Linked DNA regions of Homo sapiens. The protein of the gene in region 1 purifies or fractionates together with the protein of each later gene. This does not show direct contact. Each region holds a gene or a part of one and is shown in the gene's direction. Other genes may lie near its edges.

Region 1 (2,690 bases):
CATTCATGTGTCTTCTTTTATGAAATGTCTATTCAGATCTTTTGCCCATTTTCAAATCACACTTTGTTTTTTACTCTTGAGCTCCTCTTGTGTTTTAGTTATTAGTCCCTTGTTAGACGCGTAGTTTGTGAATATTTTATTTCACTCTGCAGGCTGTCTCTTCACTTCATTGATTGTTTTCTTTGCGGCATAAAGCCTCTTTAGTTTGATATAATTCCATTTGTATATTTTTGCTATTTTAGAATTCCTTCTTTAAATGTTTAGTAGAATTCACCTGTGAAGGCATCAAGTCCTGGGCTTTTCTTTAATGGGAGACTTTTTATTATTGATTCAATTTCCTTATCTTTTTATTGGCCTGTTGAGGTTTTCTACTTCTCCATGATTCAGTCTTAGTAGGTTTGTATGTGTCTAGGGATTTTTCTGTTTGTTTTTTTTTTCTGTTTTTTAATTTTTTGGTTTGTATTTGTTCATAACAGTCTCTAAGGATCCTTTTTGTGATATCAGTGGTGATGTCTCCTCTGCCATCTCTAATTTTATTTGAGTCATCTCTCTTTTTTCTTAGTCTGGCTAAGGCTTGTTGATGTTGTTTGTCTTTTCAAAAAACAAACAAATTTTCCTAATCTTTTGTATTTTTGTCTTTTTTATTTATTTTTGCTCTGATATTTATTATTTCCTTCTACTAATTTTGGTTTTAGTTTGTTTTTGTTTTTCTAGTTCCTTTAGGTTTAATATCAGGTTGTTTATTTGAGATCTTTAAATTTTTTTGATGTAGATATTTAATGCTATAAACTTCCCTCTTAGAATGGCTTTTGCTGTATCCCATAGGTTTTGGTATGTTGTGTTTCCATTTTCTTTTGTCTCAGGAAATTTTTAAATTTTGTTTTTATTTCTTCATTCACCCAATGACTGTTTAGGAGCATGTTGTTTAATTTCCATGTATTTGTAAGTTTTCCAAAGTTCTTTCTTTCTGTTACTAATTTCTAGTTCTATTGCATTGTGATCAGAAAAGATATTTGAAATTATTTTGATTTTAAAAAAAATTGTTGAGTTTTGTTTTGTGGCCTAACATAGGATTTAACCTGAAAAATGTTCTGTGTGCTTCTGAGAAGAATTTGTCTTGTGTAGCTGTTGGATGAAATGTTCTGTAAATGTTGGATCTAGGATGTGATTTAATTTTAATATTTCTTTGTTGATTTTCTATCTGGATGATCTGTCCATTGCTGAAAGTCTCCTATTATTATTTTATGCAGACTATCACTCCATTTAGGTCTATTAATATTTGCTCCATATATTTAGGTGCTCTGATGTTGGGGCATATATATTTATAATTGTTTTATCCTATTGCTGTATTGACCCCTTAAGTATTATATATGGTCTTATCTCTTTTTGCAGTTTCTGGCAAAAAAAAAAAAAAACTGCAAAAAGAAACAAGACCATAATGTTTATTTTATCTGATATAAGCATAGCTACTCCTAGTCTTTTTTAGTTTTCATTTGCATGAAATACTTTTTCCTTTTGTTCAATTCAAGTCTACGTGTGTCCTTATAGTTGAAATGAGTCTCTTATAGGCAGCATATAATTAAGTTAAAAAAAATCCATTCAATCATTCTACGTCTTTAATTGCAGAATTTAGTCCATTTACATTCAAGGTAATTATTAATAGGTAAGGGCTTAACACTGCCATTTTGTTACCGATTTTCTACTTGTTTTGTACATTTTTTTCCCCTGCTTTCACTTTTACAGTTTTTATTTGTGGTTTTCTCTAGTAGTATATTTTGATTCTTTGTGTTTTAATTTTAGCATATCTATTATAGGTTTTTGCTTTGCAGTTACCACAAGGCTTATACAAAATTATATAATTATAACAAGTTATTTTAAATGATAGCAACTTGACACTGATCACAAAGAAAAGAGAAGAAACAGAATAATCTGGTACAATTCAACTCTCCTTCCACGTTTTGATTTTTGTCATGATTTACACTTTTATTTTGCCCACCTCTTAACAAATTATTGTAGTTATTATTTTTGATAGGTTTTTTTTAGTTTTCATACTAAAGATATAAGTAAGTGGTTTACATGCCACAATTACAGTACTAGAGTAACAATCACATTAATGCCCTTTTCTTTAAGTTCAAAAAACTCCATTTAGCATTTCTTGTAGGAGATAGTGATGAATTCCCTCAGCATTTTTTTTTTTTGCCTGGGAAAGTCTTTTTATCTCAACTCATTTCTGAAATATAGCTTTTCTGGGTAGAGTATTCTTGGACAGCAGTCTTTTTTTTTTTCCTTCAGCATTCTGCATATATCATCTCAATCCTTTCTGGCCTGCACATTTTCAGCTACAAGTCTGCTTCCAGGCATATTGGATCTCCCTTATATATTATTTGCTTCTTTTTTTCTTGGTGCTTTCAGGACGCTCTATTTGTCTGCTCTTTGAGAGTTTATTATAATTTTTCTTGGGATATTCTTGTTTGGGTTTAATTTGATTGGTGACAAGAAATAATGTTAAAATAATAAAAATAGCATATTCACTTCTTATGTCTTTCATAACAAGATATCACAAACTTAGGCACTTAAGAAAAGAAATTTATTGTCTCACAGTTCTGGAAGCTAGAAGTCTGAGATCAATTTATTGAAAAGGACTTGACCTCACTGAAGTCTGTAGGGAAGAATCTATTCCAGACACCTCT
Region 2 (3,500 bases), on another chromosome or scaffold:
TTTCCTGAGCATGGCTGTGAGCCAGTTCCTTCCCGGTGTCAGGGCAGGGGCCTGGAGGAGGTGGTCTTGAAGTGCATGCCACAGATCTTCCTTCCCAGGGAGGGCGAGCTGGCACCATGGTGTGGCACAGACCCCGCGTCCCTTCAGATTCTGCCATGCCAGGCTGTTTGGCCTCAGGGAAGCAGCTTCCCTGACCAGTCCTTAGCACCTGGCACGTGGTGAGCCCTGTCCATGGCACCAGTCACCGTCACCATCAGTCAAGGGACTGCACCTTGGGGTGCTGGGTGCTGACGTCCTATGGGAGGGCTCCAGGGGTGCCGCCTGTCTGGTGCTCTGGGGGTCACCCAATGAATATGAGAGCCTTCCTGGGAGAGAGGGGTCTCGTTCAGCACCCCTCCTGAGGACCCAGCCCCACCCCAGGGTGTGAGGATGCAGGCCAAGGGGGCCTGAGGGAGCTGCAGTAGGGTCTCAGCACCTCCTCAGCCTCCTGGTTCCCCCCTACCCCCTGCGCACAGATATCCAGTTCTGGAACAGCCGGCAGTCCCTGGAGGGCCTGTCCGTGCGCTCCGTCTTCTTCGGCGTTTTCCAGTCATTCGTGGTCCTCCTCTACATCCTGGACAACGAGACCAACTTCGTGGTCCAGGTCAGCGTCTTCATTGGGGTCCTCATCGACCTCTGGAAGATCACCAAGGTCATGGACGTCCGGGTAAGGCTGGGGCGCCATGCTGTCTCGGGAGCTGCAGGGGTTGGGAGGGGGTAGTGTGGCCCAGCTGGACCCTGGAGCTGGCCCCCGGGGGATTCCCAGCAAGTGCCTCACTCCCAGGACTGAGGGGATTTTCTCACCAGGGGATTTTTTGGGTCACACATGGGGCAGGGGAACTGGGAACGGTGGGGAAGGGCAGGGGCTGGTTCTGGCTTGTGGGGTGGGAGCCAGCGTAGCAACTGACCATGGCACCCACCTCATCCACAGCTGGACCGAGAGCACAGGGTGGCAGGAATCTTCCCCCGCCTATCCTTCAAGGACAAGTCCACGTATATCGAGTCCTCGACCAAAGTGTATGATGATGTGAGTGTCCTGCACAGTGGGCCCCTGGGGGTGGTCTCCAGGTACCACGTATCCCTGAGGCACCCGGGGCCGGCCATCTGTCTGCCGGACCCATGCTTTACAGCCTGTGCCACATCCTCTGTGTCCCCCATCTGCCATAACTGCTTCCCTGGGCGAGTCCGGAGTCCCCAGGGCTACCTGGAAATTCCCCCTGCCCGGCCTGCCAGACCAGGTGTGGTGGGTGAGGGCGGGGAGCAGGGCTGCCAGGCAGGGCTGAGGAGCTGGCTGACAGCCCCACCCTGTGGCCCCACAGATGGCATTCCGGTACCTGTCCTGGATCCTCTTCCCGCTCCTGGGCTGCTATGCCGTCTACAGTCTTCTGTACCTGGAGCACAAGGGCTGGTACTCCTGGGTGCTCAGCATGCTCTACGGCTTCCTGCTGACCTTCGGTGAGCGGTCCGGCCGCCCCAGGAGAGAGCAGGCCCCATGCTGCGCAGGGCTCACAGCCCCAGTGTAGGAGACAGACCCATCCCCAGACAGGGACAACCTAGGGTGGGCAGAGCTGGGATATAGGGAGGCCCGAGGGCACACATGGCCCCATCTGGGGTCAGAGAGGACTTCAGGGAGGACATGAACAGTACGCTTCAGTCCTCATTCTCAGGGGGCCTTTGTGTCTTGGGAACAAGTAAACAAGTAGGGCCAGGTGCAGTGGCTCACACCTGTTATCCCAATGCTTTGGGAGGCTGAGGCAGGAGGATCACTTGAGCCCAGGAATTCGTGACCAGCCTGGGCAACTTGGCAAGACCCGATCTCTACAAAAAAACACAGAAATTATTGGGGAGTGGTGGTGCGTGCCTGTAGTCCCAGCTACCTGGGAGGCTGAGGTGGGAGGATCCCTTGAGTCCAGGAGGTTGAAGCTGCAGTGAGCCATGATTACGCCACTGCACTCCAGCCTGGGTGACAGAGTGAGACCCTGTCTCAAAAAACAAAAGACCGGGTGAATCACAGCCAATAGTGAGTACTGTGAAGGGCAGAGTGGTGGGAGGATGCACATTAATAGGGGTCCGGGGGCCCCTCTGAGGACAGGACATTTAAACAGAGGCCTCAGATATCCAGGGAGAGAGCTGTGCGGATGTGACAGAAGGCCCCACCAGTGCAGAGGCCGCTGGTAGAGTGTGCCCAGGTATAGGAAGTGGTAGAGTGTGCCCAGGTGTAGGAAGTGGTGAGGGGGCTGGTATGGCCAGTGCAGAGTGCACAGGGGAGAGGTGGGAGAGGCCATCCCTCTGCTCATGGGTGCTCTCACTGCAGGCTTCATCACCATGACGCCCCAGCTCTTCATCAACTACAAGCTCAAGTCTGTGGCCCACCTTCCCTGGCGCATGCTCACCTACAAGGCCCTCAACACATTCATCGACGACCTGTTCGCCTTTGTCATCAAGATGCCCGTTATGTACCGGATCGGCTGCCTGCGGGACGGTGAGGCCCGGTGGGCAGGTGGGAGCTCCCACCGGAACAGGGCCCTGAGGCAGTCTTTAGGGCCCAGGCCTGAGGGGGTGCCACGGCCCCAGATGGGGTGCTCAGTCTGAGGGGGCTCGGCCCCGCCCTTGCATCACGCCCTCTCCACCCAGGCCCACCTGGCTGTGGACGGGCCAGCCCGACCTCACACTGCCTCCCACCCCTCTCCAGATGTGGTTTTCTTCATCTACCTCTACCAACGGTGGATCTACCGCGTCGACCCCACCCGAGTCAACGAGTTTGGCATGAGTGGAGAAGACCCCACAGCTGCCGCCCCCGTGGCCGAGGTTCCCACAGCAGCAGGGGCCCTCACGCCCACACCTGCACCCACCACGACCACCGCCACCAGGGAGGAGGCCTCCACGTCCCTGCCCACCAAGCCCACCCAGGGGGCCAGCTCTGCCAGCGAGCCCCAGGAAGCCCCTCCAAAGCCAGCAGAGGACAAGAAAAAGGATTAGTCGAGACTGGTCCTCACCTGCTCCGGCTCCTGGCGACCACTACCCCTGCGTCCCGGCCCCCTCGCCTCCCCTCCCTGTCGCCCTTTCCCTGGACAGATCAGGCCGGGGCGGTGGGAGGCCCGCCTCAGGTCAGGGCCCAGCGTGTGATGTAGGGGCCGGGGCAGGCCAGGGTTTGTTTGTGGAGGCGCTGTCTGTCCCTCTGTCCCTCTGTGTTTCCAGCCATCTCGCCCTGCCAGCCCAGCACCACTGGGAATCATGGTGAAGCTGATGCAGCGTTGCCGAGGGGGTGGGTTGGGCGGGGGTGGGGCCGGGCCCCCCTACGGGATGCCCACGGCCGTTCATCATCTTGTCCCTCGTCCCCCTACCACACTCCCCCTCCTAGACCGCCGCCCTTTAACACAGTCTGGATTTAATAAATTCATATGGGTGTTTAACTTAAACTCAGCACTGCCCCTCCTCCTCGTGCCTTCCTTCCTCTGTTG
Region 3 (3,500 bases), 1.5 Mb from region 1:
AGGCCCAGCCCTGGGCCCTGACTTTGGCAGCTCCTCCGGGCCTCTCCCAGGGCCTTGCTCATTTTGCATAGGCGGCTGAGGCTCTGGTGGGGACTGATCACCCCACCCAGAGCCAGCAAAGCTGGTCACCACTGCAACCCTGGGCTCCTCCCTGCCCGCACCCTGGGCCTCCTCCCTGCCTGCCCCCCCACCCCAGCCCTCCTCCCTGCCTGCCCCCAGGGCCTCCTCCCTGCCTCCCCAGGGACTTCTCCCTGCCTCCCCAGGGACTTCTCCCTGCCTCCCCAGGGCCCTGGAATAGCACGTCTCTTTTCCCTGAAAATACTCTTGACCTGATCCTCTGCTACCATCCCTTTTCGGCTCGGCTAGTGGGTCACAGGCATTTTTTAAGAAACCGTGGGCCCAGTTTTCTCCTGCACGAAGTGTTGCTTTGTCAGTCTGTTCTAGACACAAATAGAACAAAGACCAAGCAAAGGACTTGATGCCAGCAATGCAGTAAGGAGATGATGGGAGACTGGCAGTTACCCTTGGGAGATCCTTACGTGTGGGGCTGAAAAGATTTCCAGGAGTGGTTAGCACTTTCTCCACCTTCCCCCGACCCTTTTTTTTTTTTTTTGAGATGGAGTCTCGCTCTGTCGCCAGGCTGGAATGCAGTGGCACGATCTCAGCTCACTGCAACCTTCCACCTCCCTGGCTAAAGCAATTCCCTGCCTCAACCTCCCAAGTAGCTGGGATTACGGGCGTGTGCCACCACACCTGGCTAATTTTTTTTTTTTTTTTTGTATTTTTAGTAGAGACGGGGTTTCACCATGTTGGCCAGTCTGATCTCAAACTTCTGGCCTCAGGCAATCCGCCGCCTCGGCCTCCCAAAGTGCTGGGATTACCGCACCCGGCCCCCTCTTCTTTTTAATTTTGAAATTTTCCCAACATCCTTAAATGTTGAAGGAACAAGCAAACACCTGTGTATCCTCAACCAAGATTCACTAGTCTTAACATTTTGCCACATTTGCGTTTTTCCTCTTTATATGTGTGCAGTTGCCTTTTGAAAATAAGCTGCGTCATTGTGTGATCACATCCCTAAGGTCTTCAACATTTCCGGAGAAAAAAGGAAGAGATGCTCTAACATCATCACAGTACCTTTGTCACATTTAAGAAAATTAATAGTAATTCCTTGATATGATCAAATATCTGGTCCATATTCATTTTTTCTCATTCAACTCCCGAAAAACCTGGTATAACTTCTTTTTTCCTTCAAGTGAGAGCCTGTCACATTAAAGAATTGCAGGATGTTGTTTTGTTTGTTTGTTTGTTTGTTTTTTGAGTCAAAGTCTCACTCTGTCGCCCAGGCTGGAGTGCAGTGGTGCAATCTTGGCTCACTGCAACCTCCACCTCCTGGTTTCAAAGGATTCTCATGCCTCAGCCTCCTGAGCAGCTGGGATTACAGGCGTGCGCCGCTACACCTGGCTAATTTTTGTATTTTCAGTAGAGGTGGGATTTCACCATGTTGCCCAGGCCGATCTCAAACTCCTAACTTCAGGTGATCGCCCTGCCTCGGCTTCCCAAAGTGCTGGGATTACAGGCATGAGCCACTGTGCCCGGCCTGTTTGTTTTTTGAGACAGGGTCTCACTCTCTTGCCCAGGCTGGAGTGCAGTGGCACCATCATTGCTTATTGTATCTTCCTGCCTCAGCCTCCCGAGTAACTGGAGTTATTGGTGCAGGCCACCATGCCTGGCTAATTTTGTTTATTCTTAGTAGAGACAGGGGTCTTGCTATGTTACTCAGGCTGGTCTTGAACTCCTGGCCTCAAGTGATCCTCCTGCCTCTGCCTCCCAAAGTGCTGGGATTACAGGCATGAGCCCCTGCGACCAGTCAAGAGTTGCAGTTTTTATATCATTTTAGTCTCTTTTAATCTAGACCATGCTTCCGTACTTTTGTTTTTTCCACAAACTTGTATGTTTTTCCCCAGCTATATTGATTTTTCTGATTGTTTCTCATGGTGGAGTTTGACTGGTTTGCCAATCCTACCAATGTCTGGAAGCTTGATTTGATGCAGATTACACAGTGTTCACCACTGGGACATTCTATTGCATCCCCTCAGGGGAGCCTGGTGCTGGCTCATCTCTAATAGAAATACTAGATTTTTTATGAGATAATTCATGTAATATGCATAATATGTATAGAAAAAAGCTGGAAGGAAAAATGCTAAAATATTAGCAATAATGACCACTTTCTGGGTGATATTTATTTTCCTCTTTATTCTGCTGTGCCTTTTCTAACTTGGCCAAAACTCAGCACGTTTTTACTTTATAATTGGGAAAAAAAGATTAAAATGTGTATCATTATAGCAGTGTTAGAGTTTGGAAAGTAATGAAAATAAAGCAAGGCATAATCCAGCTACCTTAACATGTGCAATAATAGCCTAGATCCTCCTAGGCTTTTTTTCAGGAACGCTTTTTACATAATTCTGTGTTTATTTTTTTATTTACTTCATCACAGCACATTTCCAGTGCCAAGGTAGTATTCGGTCTTGTCCTTTTCATTGACCACCCTGGACATGTAGGTGAGGAACTAGTAAGAGATGGTGGGTGGTGTGGTTTGTGCACCATGCAAGGCACTCAGCTCACGAGCAGTCGAGGCTCAAGTCCTCCCTGAGCCCCGTGTCTGCCTGGTGCGCCTTCCTGGAGGGTCACCATTTCCCGACCTGCCCAAAGGCAGCCTATGCATCTATTCACAAACCCCTGGGGAGTGTAGCATGCCTGCACCAGCACAGAAGCCCAGGTGGCTGTTGCCATTGGCGTTGGGCACTGAGGGCTCTGTCCTGGAAAAATGCTGGAGACGGCATTTGGGGCCAGATCACAGGAGACCCCGTTTGGTGTCTGGGTGCACACATGGAGCTGTTGCTGGTGAGCACTGTCCTCCTTGGGGCCCAAGAGCAGACAGAGTTCAGGTCTTAGCCTCATCACTGCCCTCTGCTCTCCAGGATGCCTTCCGCGCCTTCCACCCTGACCTGGAATTCGTGGGCAAGTTCTTGAAACCCCTGCTGATTGGTGAACTGGCCCCGGAGGAGCCCAGCCAGGACCACGGCAAGAACGTAAGTCTGGCTTGCAACCTGGGTGGGGGTGGAGACGAGGCTGGGGGTGGCTGGGAGTCTGAGAGAGGCTCCCCTTGCCCCATGACCAGTAACTGGGGCTGAGGCAGGGGTGCTTTTGTCCTGGAGGAGCCACTGTGGTTCACCTGTGTTCAGGGAGGGCCTCAGAGCCTCCCTGGGAGCCGGGGTTTGACAACAACTAGTGGCGTCTCCTCTCTCCTGGCCAGTTTCATTTTCCTTCTCCTCCATCCCTTTCCAGGAAGGTGCCAGATGACAATCTAGGGGAAAGACAGGACAGAAACACCGAAAAATGTCATTTGATGACAAGAGTGGCTTTGGGGTGTGTGGTCCGGGGCACCTCTTTGAGAAAGAATGACCATTCCCTGGTCATCTGTTCATTGTCTGCAGGTCAGA
Region 4 (3,500 bases), on another chromosome or scaffold:
AATCCCTGCTCTGCCAGTTGTTCTGTGGCTTCAAGCAGGTTAACTTCCCTGAGCCTTTGTATTTTCATGTGAGTATTGGCCGGGAATGGTGGCTCACGCCTATAATCCCAGCTTTTTGGGAGGCTGTGGTGGGCGGATCACCTGAAGTCAGGAGTTTGAGACCAGCCTGACCAACGTGGTGAAATCCTGTCTCTACTAAAAAATACAAAAATTACCCAGGTGTGGTGGCGCATGCCTGTAATCCCAGCTACTTGGGAGACTGAGGCAGGAGAATTGCTTGAACCTGGGAGGTGGAGGTTGCAGTGAGCCGAGATCACACCACTGCACTCCAGACTGGGCAACAAGAGCAAAACTCTGTCTCCAAAAAAAAAAAAAGTATTAATCTAATACCTACTTTTCAGGGTAGTTGTATTACTTGAGATGATGTATTTAAAACGCCCAGCATTTTGCTTTGGGAGGCTGAGGTGGGAGGATCATTTGAGGTTAGGAGTTTGAGACCAGCCTGGGCAAAAGAGTGAGACCCCTGTCTCTCCAAAAAATAAAAATCATCCAGGTGTGGTGGCATGCACCTGTAGTCCTAGCTGCTGGGAGGCTGAGGATGGAAGATCGCTTGAGCCCAAGAGTTTGAGGTTATAGCTTTGATCACTCCACTGCACTCCAGCCTGGGTGACAGAGGGAGACCCTGCCTCAGAGAAAAAAATGCCTAGCACAGTACTTAGAACACACAAAGACAATACATTGTAGTTGTCTTTTTTATAGCAATTATGAATCATACGTGGAGCTTGCTGGTCTAATCCAGCTTTTTAAAAAGGATTCAGATGGAATTGACTTTCATGTCATTGAGTAATGTCTTGTTCAGTTGATTCCTGTAGGTCTGCCATCACCAGGGAAATACAGTAATATTGTCGATTTTGGAGTTTAATTTAAATGCTCATGATCTGCAGGTCTGTGTACTACAGACTGTTGCAACTTTTTTTTTTTTTTTTTTTTGAGACTGAGTCCTGCTCTGTCACCTAGGCTGGAGTGCAGTGGCACGATCTCAGCTCACCTCTGCCTCCCAGGTTCAAGCAATTCTCCTGCCTCAGCCTCCCAAGTAGCTGGGATTACAGGCACCCGCCACCATGCCCAGCTTATTTTTGTATTTTTGGTAGAGACAGGGTTTTGCCATGTTGACCAGGCTGGTCTCGAACCCCTGACCTCAGGTAATCTGCCCATGTGAGCCTCCCAAAGTGCTGGGATTACAGGCGTGAGCCACCATGCCCAGCTGCAACTTTTTATCTTGTTTGCAGTTGGAGAAATTACTGTTTTTAACATTGTTTCTTTTCAATACCTGGAAATTTGATCAAATACATTGTCATTTCATTTCACCTTTTTTCTTGTTTTGAGTAATTTACTGTTTTACATTATAGAATTTGTTGTAGCATTTTATTTTAAAGCATTCTTAGCATATTTATAGGTATTCTTTAAATGAGTCACTACTGAAATACATGATTTTTATTTCTTTTGTTTTGTTCGGATTACCTTCCTATTACTGTTAACCATCCATAGTTTTGGATTGACTATCAGGGTGTACTTTTCGTTATCGTGGAAAAATTAGTTGACCCCATACACAGGCTTCTAATCATGTAGCTATTCTTTAAAGACTCAGATTAACAAGATTCAAAGGTTGTTAGATAACTTCTTGTTGGTTTTATGTGACCCTGGATTCTTTTGTGTGGCTGTATCTCTACTGTCATTATTATTTCATAGGGAATTTCATAGAGAATAGTAGTATCATATACTATTGCAGAGAGGATAGGAATATGCATTTTTGCAACCCTTATGAGGCCTTCTGACTTATTGTTTCTAGAAGATCAAATATTTTTTCCTGAAAGTCCTTTGAACCACATTAAATAGGCTAAGGATTAAATGCCAAAAAGGAGATAATTTTTTTTTTAATTTTCTGGTTTATGTTTAGGCATTATTTACCTTAGGCTGTATTTAAAAAGAACCATAATGGTAAGAAAACAGTATGATTTTAGAAACATGCATTCTATATTATTGGTTTCATTATACATTTCTGTGTGTGTGTGCACAAAAGAATGACTGCATAAAGCAAAGGTTCACATTTTTTTTAATTTTATAAATTCCAGGGAGAAACACATCTCATCTTTCCTAAAAAAGCTTCAGTGGAGCAGCTGCAAAAAATTCGTGACCTGATTGCCATAGAGAGAAGTAGCAGACTGGATGGCTCAAATAAGAGCCACAAAGTAAAGTCATCTCAGCAACCTGCAGCCAGTACCCAGCTTCCTACAACACCATCTTCAAATCCCAGTGGGTTAAACCAGCACACAAGGAACCGTCAAGGGCAGTCATCAGATCCACCATCTGCTTCAACGGTAATGTTAGAATTAAACCTTCTTTAACTGTTTCTTTCAAAGTGTTGAAACAGCAAAAGCTTTGGAATGTGTTATGATTTATTCCTGAATTTATGCCCCATATTTTGTTCTTAGTTCTTATAACTCTAAAACATCCAAATTTCTTCAGCTCTTTAAAAAATTGTCAGATTTCCTCTACTGCATTAATACTTCTGATCTAAATTGTACCTGCTGCCTTTCACTGTGGGGGTTATTTCCAACAGCACAACCATTATCAATACCTTAATTCAATAAAAAAGCTTCTTTAGGTTTAAGGTAATTAAGAATGCATTAATTTAATGATAGTGGATGCTAGCAAATTAGTGAAATTTTATTATTAATATACACCATATATACTTGTGAAGAACTAAAGTCAAACTTACAGGCATTCTTGATAAACTGAAATGATTCCATTTGATAGGAAATTATCCTGTTTACAAAAATCTCTTTTGACCAAGGTCCTTACATATTCTTCTCCTAAGTTTTTACTGTCAGAAAAATTCTTGTGATATTTCTGTAAGTCTAACAAGCACCTCAATGGATTTTTATGCCCCTCCCTGAGATCATGTGCATTCCATTTTGAATACCTTAGGTCTTCATCAGTTTTGCAGTTAAGGTTGGTACAGTTACAGAAGCTCACTTAACATCTTTCTTGGTTTTTAACACCTTTTCTTAGGAGTTTTCCAATTACAGTGTTAGAATATATCTTTTAAGATTTCCTACTTTATCTTTTTAATTGCAGTATTATAGTTTAAAATGCACATAGTTAACCAATCTGCAAAAAAGCTTGCAAACATTTTATTTTACAAAATATCTCTTTCCTGGGCTAAGTAGTATTTTGTTAGTGTCCTGGCTCAGGAAAGCCATTCACATTTTCTTAATCTTGTTTAAACTTCTTTTCTTTTGTTTTGTTTTTTTCTTTTTTTGAGACAGAGTCTCATTCTGTCCAGGCTGTAGTACAGTGGCAAAATCTTGGCTCACTGCAACCTCTGCCTCCCAGGTTGAAGTGATTCTCGTGCCTCAGCCTCCTGAGTTTCTGGAAATAAAGGCATGCACCATCTCTCCTGGCTAATTTTTGTTTTTTCTTCTTTTTGAGACGGAGTT
Region 5 (3,500 bases), on another chromosome or scaffold:
TCAACCTCCCAAGTAGCTGGGACTACAGGCACATGCCACCATGCCCAGCTAACAACTTTTTTTTTCCTTTTTTTTCTTTTATGAGACAGGGTTTCACTCCCGTTGCCCAGGCTGGTATGCTCTCCCAGCCTCAAGCAGTCCTCCTGCCTCAGCCTCCTGAGTAGCTGGGACTAAGGCCACGCCTGGCTAATTTTTGTACTTTTAGTAGAGACAGGGTTTCACTATGTTGCACAGGCTGGTCTTGAACTCCTGACCTCAAGTGATCCACCTGCCTTGACTTCCCAAAGTGCTGGGATTACAGGCATGAGCCACCATACCCAGCCCTTTTTTTTTTTTTTTTTTTTTTTTCTTGAGACAGGGTCTCAGTCTGTCACACAGGCTAGAGTCCAGTGGTGTGATCCTAGCTCACTGCAGTCTCTTAAGTCTTGGGCTCAAGCAGTCCTCCCACCTCCACCTCCCAGGTAGCTGGGATTGCAGGCATGCACCACCATCATGCCTGGCTAATGTTTTTTTATTTTTAGTAGAGACAAGATCTCATTATGTTGCCCAGGCTGGTCTCGATCTTCTAAGCTCAAGCAATCCTCCTGCTTCGGCCTCCCAAAGTTCGGGGATTATAGGAGTGAGCCACTGTGCCTGGCCTTTTGTTTGTTTGTTTTTAATTTTTTGTAGAGATGGGATCTCTCCATGTTGCACAGGCTGGTCTCTAACTCTTGGGTTCAAGGGATCCTCTTGCCTTGGCCTCCCAAAGCATTTGGGTTAGAGGAATGAGCCTCCATACCTGGCCGTGTTTCTTAATTTCCAAACATAAAGGGAAATGTTTACATTTCTGGTTTGCATTTTAAATGGAATTCTAGGTTAATTACCTTGTGGTCAGAATACCTGCTGTCAATGATTTCAATCCTTTGAAATGTGTGAAAGTTAGCAATAAAATGGTCACACGGTTTTGTAACCTGCCTTTTATACTTTGCAACATTGTTGCTTTGGGATTTATTTTTAATTGCCCAGTTCGCTACAAATCCTGAATGGAAATAATTTTGCCTAAAATTCAAAATGATTGACTTTTCGTTTTGGGTTTTTGTTTTGTTTTGTGTTTGGTTTTGTTTTGTTTTTGAGATGGAGTCTCGCTCTGTCGCCCAGGCTAAAGTGCAGTGGCGTGATCTCGGCTCACTGCAACCTCCGTCTCCCAGGTTCAACTGATTCTCTTGCCTCAGCCTTCCAAGTAGCTGGGACTACAGACACACGTCACCATGCCTGGCTAATTTCTGTATTTTTAGCAGAGACGGGGTTTCACTATGTTGGCCAGGCTGGTCTCAAACTCCTGACCTCGTGATCTACCCACCTCAGCCTCCCAAAGTTCTAGGATTTCAGATGTGAGCCACCACGTCCGGCCATGACTGACTTTTTTAATTTGTCAGCATAAAACAGTGAATAAAAATTCTCCAGTGGAAAGTGTACTTGATTTTCCCTTTGACCCGAAATAGCTGCATCATTGCTTTCAGCCCTGCATTGCTGAAATAGATCACCACATGTTTATTCGCTCAAACAGGTCTGTCTTGTTTGGTTATATTACTTTAGCCAAGGTCAGCTACGTTTTTATTAAGCTGGTAAGTAAAGAAAGCCCATCTATTTGCATTGAGAACACTGCATAAAATCTAGCTGATTCTTGGTTTTTCTCTAGGCCCGAGGTATGAAGAAGCAAATCATTGACGACTTCATCACCCGAAACAAATATCTATTGGCAGCCAGGCTCACCAGCCAGAAGTTGTTCCATGAACTCTGCCCTGTGAAACGGTCGCATCGACAGAGGAAGTAAGGACTTAAGGCTTTGCCTCTGCTTGTTATTACAATAGAAGGATCATGATTCATTTTACTATAGGGTGACTAGACATCTGCCCTGTAACATTGAGAACTTATTCTTCATTTAACAAATACTGGGCCGGGCATGGTGGCTCATGCCTGTAATCCCAGCACTTTGGGAGGCCGAGGAGGGCGGATCATCTGAGGTCCGGAGTTCAAGACCAGCCTGACCAACATGGAGAAACCCCATCTCTACTAAAAATACAAAATTAGCCGGGCATGGTGGCTTATGCCTGTAATCCCAGCTACTAGGGAGGCTGAGGCAGGAGAATCACTTGAACCTGGGAGGCAGAGGTTGCGGTGAGCCGAGATCATGCCATTGCACTCCAGCCTGGGCAACAAGAGTGAAACTCTGTCTCAAAAAAAAAAAAAAAAAAAACACTGATTAGTGACTGTGATGGTAATCATACTAATATGATGTATTAGTCCAGGGCACTTTAGCACCAAATTGTCAGATGTGCCAGCCTGTCCTAGTGGTCAGAGAAGATTTCCCTAAGATGTAACATTTCAGCTGAGACCTGAAGGATGAGCACAGTTTAGCCAGGCGTCTGGGATAGACTGGGTCACTTTACAGAAGCACAGAATATGGAAGAGTGACTGTCCCTACTAAAGCATTCCACACAGGGTGAGTCTTTGGAGGTCTTGGGAAGGAGCAAGGATAACAATTAAACAGTAGGGAAGTACAGAGTATTGAGGAAATGGATTGGTGGGAATCGGGAAGGCTAAGTTACATGTATTCAATAAAGTAGGAAGAGTTATTATACAAAGTATCTAAAAAGTCTAGAAATTCAGGGAATGTATTCATTACACCTTCTCAGGTGAATGAATCAGTAGCTTTAAATTTAGGGCTGTTTCATCTGTAAAAGGTATCTGGATATGGAAGGAAAACATATCAATCATGTAACTTGAAAATATAAAACATAATTTCCCTGTGTGTCTAGGCTTTTCAGATTCCTTTATAGTCTTAAGAGCGAAGAAAAAAATGACTTAAATATAAAAAAAGAATATCCTGGACTGTAAGGATTGTTGTTTACACAGCCTTCAAAAAATATCCCAAATCCACACACTTCTCACTTTTTTTAACCACTGCCACCCTGGAACAAGCCACCATCGTCTCCCAGCGAGACCCCCCTGGCAGCCTTCTAACTAGTCTCTCTGCTCCATTCCACTCTTGTACCCTCCAGGCAGATGTCCACACGTCAGCCAATAATGTTTGAAAATGCAAATCAGATCCAGTCACTCCCCATCCTGGGGTCTTTGCACTTGTAGTCTCTCTACCTGGGATGCTCTGACCCCATTTCCTGTCATAACAATGTCACCTTTTCAGTTGGCACTTCCCTGACCAACCTGTCTGATGGAGCCTGGCTTCTACCCACTCTGGCCTCTCTCTGTCCCCTTTTCATCTTTTTTTTTTTTTTTAATATATAGCACTTGTTGATACCTGTCATAATATATCTGTTTTCTGTCTTCCCCACTGGAATATAAGCTCCATGAGGGCAATAATATTGTCTATATTACCTGACATATACTAAGTGCTCAGTAAATATTTTTGGGAGAATGAATAGCTAAACTTTCCATTGGAACCTTGCAAAGGAAGCCGTTCAGAATGAGGCTCAGTGGCCTCTGGCCTGAGAGAGATTTGA
Region 6 (3,500 bases), on another chromosome or scaffold:
ACGGGGCGGCTGTCCGGGCAGAGGGGCTCCTCACTTCCCAGTAGGGGCGGCCGGGCAGAGGCGCCCCTCACCTCCCAGACGGGGCGGCTGGCCGGGCGGGGGGCTGACCCCCCCACCTCCCTCCCCGACGGGGCGGCTGGCCGGGCGGGGGGCTGCCCCCCCCACCTCCCTCCCGGACGGGGCGGCTGTCCGGGCAGAGGGGCTCCTCACTTCCCAGTAGGGGCGGCCGGGCAGAGGCGCCCCTCACCTCCCAGACGGGGTGGCTGGCCAGGCGGGGGGCTGACCCCCCCACCTCCCTCCCGGACGGGGCGGCTGGCCGGGCGGGGGGCTGACCCCCCCCACCTCCCTCCCCGACGGGGCGGCTGGCCTGGCCGGGGCTGACCCCCACCTCTCTCCCGGACGGGGTGGCTGCCGGGCGGAGACGCTCCTCACTTCCCAGACGGGGTGGCTGCCGGGCGGAGGGGCTCCTCACTTCTCAGACGGGGCGGCCGGGCAGAGACGCTCCTCACCTCCCAGACGGGGCGGCGGGGCAGAGGTGCTCCCCACATCTCAGACGATGGGCGGCCGGGTAGAGACGCTCCTCACTTCCTAGATGGGATGGCGGCCGGGAAGAGGCGCTCCTCACTTCCTAGATGGGATGGCGGCCGGGCAGAGACGCTCCTCACTTTCCAGACTGGGCAGCCAGCAAAATTTTAACTTTTATATCTGTTTTACCACAATAAAAATACAAAGAAAAGTTGGAATTAATATTTGTTTTACCTATCTCATAAGGTCATTGTGAAGGGGAAATAAGATTAGGATGTTTGAGATGTCATTGGGATTATCTTTAAAAATCTGAAAAATGTTTAAGCAGACTCAAAAATAGGCCTTTGAGTAGCTCTTTTTTTTTTTTTTTTTTTTTTGTATGTCCCCTTATATGTTTTTTATGCAGCCAGAAGTTGGGTGAAACAATGATTTAAATAAACTAATATTTCAAACCTAGTCATATTTAGCAGCAGTTGCCATAAATTACTTTGCATAGTTGCTATGAAGTAAGTTGATGATTAAAATTAAGCTCAGAAATGCATATTTTTGAGTTTATACCTAAGTTGTTTTTCAGTTACAACTTTGTCTTATTCAATAACATAAAAATGAACATTTGTTAGCCTTTCATTCTAGTTTACGTATATAATTTTAAAAAATCTTACTAAACGTGATCCTGAAATTTCTTATAGGCAGTTTTCTGTTATCTTAATGAGAATATGTTTTCTTATAAGCACAAAAAAATTCAAGTACCTTTCGTGCCACTGTTGGGAGGAATTTTTACTATGAGAGACTTGAGCTCAGAGAACATACATATATAGTTTTCCTTTGGTGTGTGCATTATGATTTTGTTTAGGACATTAAAAATAGGCAGTGTAAACATAACAAATTTGCTAAGGAAGAGACCCGAACAAATTTTACTCTTGTTTATTGTTCTTTTTTAAATCCCCATCTAGATTTGGAGGTTGATATGTGGAAGAATAATTTGCCTTGATTTGAAAGATACTTTCTGCAGTAGTCTGCTTATTTATAATTTTAGGATATTTGAAAGAAGATATGGAAGCAGAAAATTTGCAGTAAGTTTTTATGTATTTTGTCTTTGCTACTTAGGCTGTAGAAAAAAATTTTGTTTAAATGGATTTTATTTTGTTAAACTTGGTGTTGTTATTTACAGTTATCTTTTTAATTACACTATTCTGTATCTGATTTGAGGCACATGGACATTAACCAAAGAAAATTTTAAAATGTAAGACATTAGCATAATAATAATAGTGATAATGATAATATGTAGTATTAGTTGTGAACACTAATACAAATTTTAATACTTTGACTTTAATAAAATTATAATTTATTTTGCTTAGTGGTTTGTGTTTTACTTGTTAAAAATATATCTTCAACATACTTAAAAATTATGGCTGTTAATACATTTGAGCAATATGGGTTTACCCCGCCCATTTTCTAAAGTCTATTTTAATAAAAACAAATAATTTCAAATATATATACACACATATGCATGTGTGTATATACACACACACACATACATATGAATACACACCTCTGAGCTGATTCTAGCTGAATAAATGTTAGTTTATTTTTAGGAGACTCATCTCTATCATTTTTCTGCTGTTTTATTTTGTAGTCCTTTTTGCTGGGTTCCTGGGTTTTGTCAGCCTTATTTGACTTTCTCCTCATTGAAGCTATGCAGTATTTCTTTGGCATCACTGCAGCTAGTAATTTGCCTTCTGGATTGTAAGTAGCACTTAAAGATTGACTTAATTTAGAACTACTTGAATCTGATTTAAAGTGTTATTATTATTATGTGAAAGTCAGTAAAATAATATTTTAAACTTCTAGATATAGTTAAATTGATTTTATATGTAAAAAGTCTAATCTATGCCTACATTTTTATTATGTTCTTGAAATAGAATCAATTTTATATTCTTTCTTTAAAATTTATTTTACTTTTTTTTTTTTTGAGACGGAGTCTCGCTCTGTCACCCAGGCTGGAGTGCATTGGCACGATCTCGGCTCACTACAACCTCCGCCTCCCGGGTTCAAGCGATTCTCCTGCCTCAGCCTCCCAAGTAGCTGGGACTACAGGCACGTGCCACCATGCCTGGCTAATTTTTGTATTTTTTAGTAGAGACAGGGTTTCACCATGTTGGCCAGGCTGGTCTTGAACTCCTGACCTCAGGTGATCCACCCGCCTCGGCCTCCCAAAGTGCTTGAGCCACTGTGTGAGCCACCTTGCCCAGGCACCTTCTTTTTTTAGCTTTGAAAGTTTGTGTTTTAGAGAATTTTAAGTGAATTTCCTATTCTGATCCTGATAGAATTAGTTTTGTGTGTTTTTATAGTGAAATTTGTCTTTGTAATTTTATGAACTAAACACAAAAATATAGTTTAATTAGATTAGGAAACAAAATTAATTTGTACGAAGTTAAGCTTCTGAAGAATAATTTTTTAAAAGCTGATAATGTTTAAACACTTCCATCAAACATAAAACAAAGCCGGTGTATAGGTTATAACTTTGTAGACAACCTGCCGTGGCCAACCCCACTCAGAATTTGTATGCTTTCATATTGCGTTGATCTTCTTTAAAAAAAACAAAAACCATGTATTAGTGTGTGAAATAACTAGAATCTAGGAGTAGAGTTGACAGAACGAGACTCCATCTCAAACAAACAAACAAAAAAACAGGCCGGGCGCGGTGGCTCATGCCACCTTTGGGAGGCCGAGGTGGGCGGATCACGAGGTCAGGAGTTCAAGACCAGCCTGGTCAATATGGTGAAACCCCATCTCTACTAGAAATACAAAAATTAGTTGGGCGTGGTGGCACGTAGTCCCAGCTGCTCAGGAGGCTGAGGCAGAAGAATCACTTGAACCCGGGAGGCAGAGGTTGCAGTGAGCGGAGATCGCTCCACTGCACTTCAGCCTGGGTGACAGAGTGAGACTCCGCCTCAAAAAACAAACAAAATACC
Region 7 (3,500 bases), on another chromosome or scaffold:
TCTCCACTCGTTACACTGTTTATTAGTGTAGAAGGAGGCACCTTTTCCCCTATCACTATGCCATGGCTCACATACAGTCTTCTTTGATATCATAACCGTATTTTTGCGGCTTAGTCTCCTAACTGATCATCTTTATATATGCATAATGCTGTCCAGTTTATTATCTAGCACTTCTGAGAAGTGTATTACAAATGCATTACTGAGTTGGGAAAAAATAAAATTAGGATAGTGGTAAAATGTTATATCACAAGAAGGAAATGGATTTAATGAACTAAATGAGAGTATATCTGGTAGAGACCCATTTCAACATTAGAATTATCTGCTGTAGAACATTTTCTAGTTCAATTTTCTTAGACTTTCAGATGTTAGGCTGATTGTTTTATTTTTCTTTTGCCATGTGCATACCCTTACTTCTTAACTGAGTGATCTGGTTCTTAACAATAATACCTTATATTTGTATAAATCATTAAAATATATTATTTCATTCAACCCTATACAATAGGTTGTGGTATTTCTATTTTACACATATAGAAATCAATAGTCAGAGGTTAAACTGCTCAGCTCAGGTCACACACACCAACAAATGATGGAACTAAACCTTTTTGAGTGGCATCTTCAGGATGCCAATCCAGTGCATTTTCCACCACACAAGGATCCTCTTATATGAATGTCATCATGTGGCCAGAGCCTGGGTGTATAATTAATAGATTTGTATCTAAAACATTTGACTTGTAGGAGGGAGACAATATGGAGTTCTGTTAAAGATACATTTCCTACTACTATATTACCAAATTTGGAAATTCACATTGATGAAACCTTTTTAAGTATAAAAATTTTTTTAATAAAATGCCAAATCCTTTTCTTTCCTCTTTCCCTTTCTCTTTTGTTTCTTGTAATTTGACTATTTTTCTCTTACAGCATGTACAGAAGCATATTCCCAATCTGATGAGCAATATGCTTGCCATCTTGGTTGCCAGAATCAGCTGCCATTCGCTGAACTGAGACAAGAACAAGTACGAAACAATACTGCCTTTCAAACTAGCCTGCTTAGATGGCACTGACTTGTATTGCTTGAAGTGTTTATCACCCACTTGATCCTATTTTAGTGTTATATTTTATATTTGGCTTTCAGCAAACAAAATTAGTTTGCAAATAGAAAAGTCAGTTGAATAATTGCTTTTGTATAATGCTTTACTATTAAAAGTTATGCTTACGTTCATAATCTTATTTTGTTTCTTCTCACATTCCAGTGAAGATATTATCCTCATTTTACATATGAAAAAACCAAGGCTCAGAGGAATTATTTCAGAGTTCTTTTTCTCCATCCCAACTCCCATTGGACAGTTGCCATTGCCTTAACTCAGATAATCATTTCTTGTCTGTATTTTTAAATTAACTTCCAAACTGTTTTTCTAATTTAACCCTGTCTAACTCCATCCTTTGCTGTGTCCAGATTTTTTTTTCTAAATTTCATCATGCCATTCTCCTGTCTTATATAATCAGTAGCTCCCAATTACATATAGATTTAAGTCCAAACTGTTTATCACAACCTACTCCTGATTACTGCTCCAATGCCATCTCTTAAAATTCCTGACAAGGGAATTTCATACTCTATTCTCCAGACATACTGGGAAAAGTTTCTTAATTTTATTGATTTTTGCACAGGAAATAGTCACATGTACAAACTCAAAAGATAAAAAGAGTATACATATAGTGAAAAGTCTCCCACTCCTGTCTCTTAGCCACTCAGTTTTCCCTCTTGAATGTAGCCAAGGTTACTAATGCATAGATATGTTATGCGTATACAAGGATGTACACATATATTTTGTAAATATAAGTATACATAAAGAGCTTCTACTAATTTTTTTCTACTACATAATATTCTGTGTAGATATATTATAATTTTTTAGGCAGTCCCTTATTTGTGAACATGTAGGTTGTTCCTAATCTTTTTCTTTTGTAAATGATACCTATTTTGCACATTTGTGAGTATACCTGTAGAATAAAATCATAGGGCTAGAATTGCTGAGTTAAGAGGTATATGCATTTTTTATTTTTATGTTTTTTAGAGATGAGGATCTCACTATATTACCCAGGCTGGCCTCAAGCTTCTGGGCCCAAGTGCTACCATAGATACCACTGCACTCCAGCCTGGGTGACAGAGCGAGACACTGTCTCAAAAAAAAAAAAAAAAAACAGATGAAAAAAGAAACAAAGCAGAACCAAAGCTATCCCTAGAGTTTAGTAAATGGCATCCCACACTTGTGCTTTAGAGAGGCCCAGTGCTGCTAAAGAAGTCAAGAAATCAGAATTGGAGGAAAGATGATATCATTTGTCAAAATCCTTTTTTTTTTTTTTTTTTTGTGATGGAGTCTCGCTCTGTCGCCAGGCTGGAGTGCAGTGGCATGATCTTGGCTCACGGCAACCTCTGCCTCCCTGGCTTAAGGGATTCTCCTGCCTCAGCCTCCTGAGTAGCTGGGACTACAGGCGTGCGCCACCACGCCTAGCTAATTTTTGTGTATTTTTAGTAGAGATCGGGTTTCACCATGTTGCCCAGGATGGTCTCCATCTCTTGACCTCGTGATCCACCCGCCTCAGCCTCCCAAAGTGCTGGGATTACCGGTGTGAGCCACCACGCTGGGCCATTAAAATCTTATCAGTAGCTTACTACATATATTCAGCCCATAAATACTCCCTTCACCCTGTCGTGTTGTCAGATGTCTACCATTTTATGTATATATTCTTCTGATTGATTTTTTCCGTTCTCTTTTCCATTGATGTTCATTATAGCATGATTTATTCTTGATGAAAGCATTAAAGATGAGAATGATACGATTTGTCCCTTCCCGTTCTACCCTTAAGGCCTTGCTGGTCCTTATTTAATTACATCTTAAGAGTCTTCTTATTTTTGGACTTAATTCAAAAGCCTGTTATTCTGATAGAGGTGACAGGTAGCTAGTAAGTGTGTTTGGTGGCAAATTAAAGTATCCTTGGTTTTTAAGCTTTACCATAATGTGCATAGATAACTAAGAGTTTACTCTAATGCTATTGATTATGGTAGATGTATTTAATTGTTTGTATCCTGTCCCAATAAGGATTGGAGTAATCTTGATTATATTGTTCTTTTGAATATACATATATAAAAATAATATATTTCTCATTATTTATTTTATTTTTAGCTTATGTCCCTGATGCCAAAAATGCACCTACTCTTTCCTCTAACTCTGGTGAGGTCATTCTGGAGTGACATGATGGACTCCGCACAGAGCTTCATAACCTCTTCATGGACTTTTTATCTTCAAGCCGATGACGGAAAAATAGTTATATTCCAGGTGACAACTGAGCTTCATGGATTCATCTAAATACTAACAACAGTAAATGTATATGTCTTAAATGAGTGTTTCAGCATAGAACCATACTCAGTCACTTACAAATATTTATCATCAAATAATAATTACTTATTTGGCCCTACATTAAAATATTAGACATCAGTTTTATTA

What was found.
Region 2: the proteins of SLC22A10 (region 1) and CLPTM1 purify together in Homo sapiens (affinity purification with mass spectrometry; one large-scale study listed by BioGRID and IntAct). This does not show direct contact.
Region 3: the proteins of SLC22A10 (region 1) and FADS2 purify together in Homo sapiens (affinity purification with mass spectrometry; one large-scale study listed by BioGRID and IntAct). This does not show direct contact.
Region 4: the proteins of SLC22A10 (region 1) and NGLY1 purify together in Homo sapiens (affinity purification with mass spectrometry; one large-scale study listed by BioGRID and IntAct). This does not show direct contact.
Region 5: the proteins of SLC22A10 (region 1) and DNAJC16 purify together in Homo sapiens (affinity purification with mass spectrometry; one large-scale study listed by BioGRID and IntAct). This does not show direct contact.
Region 6: the proteins of SLC22A10 (region 1) and UBAC2 purify together in Homo sapiens (affinity purification with mass spectrometry; one large-scale study listed by BioGRID and IntAct). This does not show direct contact.
Region 7: the proteins of SLC22A10 (region 1) and TMEM59 purify together in Homo sapiens (affinity purification with mass spectrometry; one large-scale study listed by BioGRID and IntAct). This does not show direct contact.

Annotation. Positions count from the first base shown.
Region 1 is NC_000011.10:63,306,903-63,309,592, forward strand, and holds part of SLC22A10 (solute carrier family 22 member 10), read left to right. Parts: intron 1-2,690.
Region 2 is NC_000019.10:44,989,880-44,993,379, forward strand, and holds the end of CLPTM1 (putative lipid scramblase CLPTM1), read left to right. Parts: intron 1-515; coding exon 516-706; intron 707-970; coding exon 971-1,066; intron 1,067-1,358; coding exon 1,359-1,494; intron 1,495-2,353; coding exon 2,354-2,521; intron 2,522-2,731; coding exon 2,732-3,018; 3' UTR 3,019-3,462; downstream 3,463-3,500. UniProt on the Homo sapiens protein: Involved in GABAergic but not glutamatergic transmission. Binds and traps GABAA receptors in the endoplasmic reticulum (ER).
Region 3 is NC_000011.10:61,834,800-61,838,299, forward strand, and holds part of FADS2 (acyl-CoA 6-desaturase), read left to right. Parts: intron 1-2,978; coding exon 2,979-3,089; intron 3,090-3,500. UniProt on the Homo sapiens protein: Involved in the biosynthesis of highly unsaturated fatty acids (HUFA) from the essential polyunsaturated fatty acids (PUFA) linoleic acid (LA) (18:2n-6) and alpha-linolenic acid (ALA) (18:3n-3) precursors, acting as a fatty acyl-coenzyme A (CoA) desaturase that introduces a cis double bond at carbon 6 of the fatty acyl chain.
Region 4 is NC_000003.12:25,762,944-25,766,443, reverse strand, and holds part of NGLY1 (peptide-N(4)-(N-acetyl-beta-glucosaminyl)asparagine amidase), read left to right. Parts: intron 1-2,132; coding exon 2,133-2,378; intron 2,379-3,500. UniProt on the Homo sapiens protein: Specifically deglycosylates the denatured form of N-linked glycoproteins in the cytoplasm and assists their proteasome-mediated degradation. Cleaves the beta-aspartyl-glucosamine (GlcNAc) of the glycan and the amide side chain of Asn, converting Asn to Asp.
Region 5 is NC_000001.11:15,557,848-15,561,347, forward strand, and holds part of DNAJC16 (dnaJ homolog subfamily C member 16 isoform 1 precursor), read left to right. Parts: intron 1-1,678; coding exon 1,679-1,809; intron 1,810-3,500. UniProt on the Homo sapiens protein: Plays an important role in regulating the size of autophagosomes during the formation process.
Region 6 is NC_000013.11:99,242,354-99,245,853, forward strand, and holds part of UBAC2 (ubiquitin-associated domain-containing protein 2 isoform 1 precursor), read left to right. Parts: intron 1-1,478; coding exon 1,479-1,598; intron 1,599-2,161; coding exon 2,162-2,271; intron 2,272-3,500. UniProt on the Homo sapiens protein: Restricts trafficking of FAF2 from the endoplasmic reticulum to lipid droplets.
Region 7 is NC_000001.11:54,043,205-54,046,704, reverse strand, and holds part of TMEM59 (transmembrane protein 59 isoform 2 precursor), read left to right. Parts: intron 1-918; coding exon 919-1,013; coding exon of another isoform or gene 1,014-1,061; exon of another isoform or gene 1,062-1,222; intron 1,223-3,179; coding exon 3,180-3,332; intron 3,333-3,500.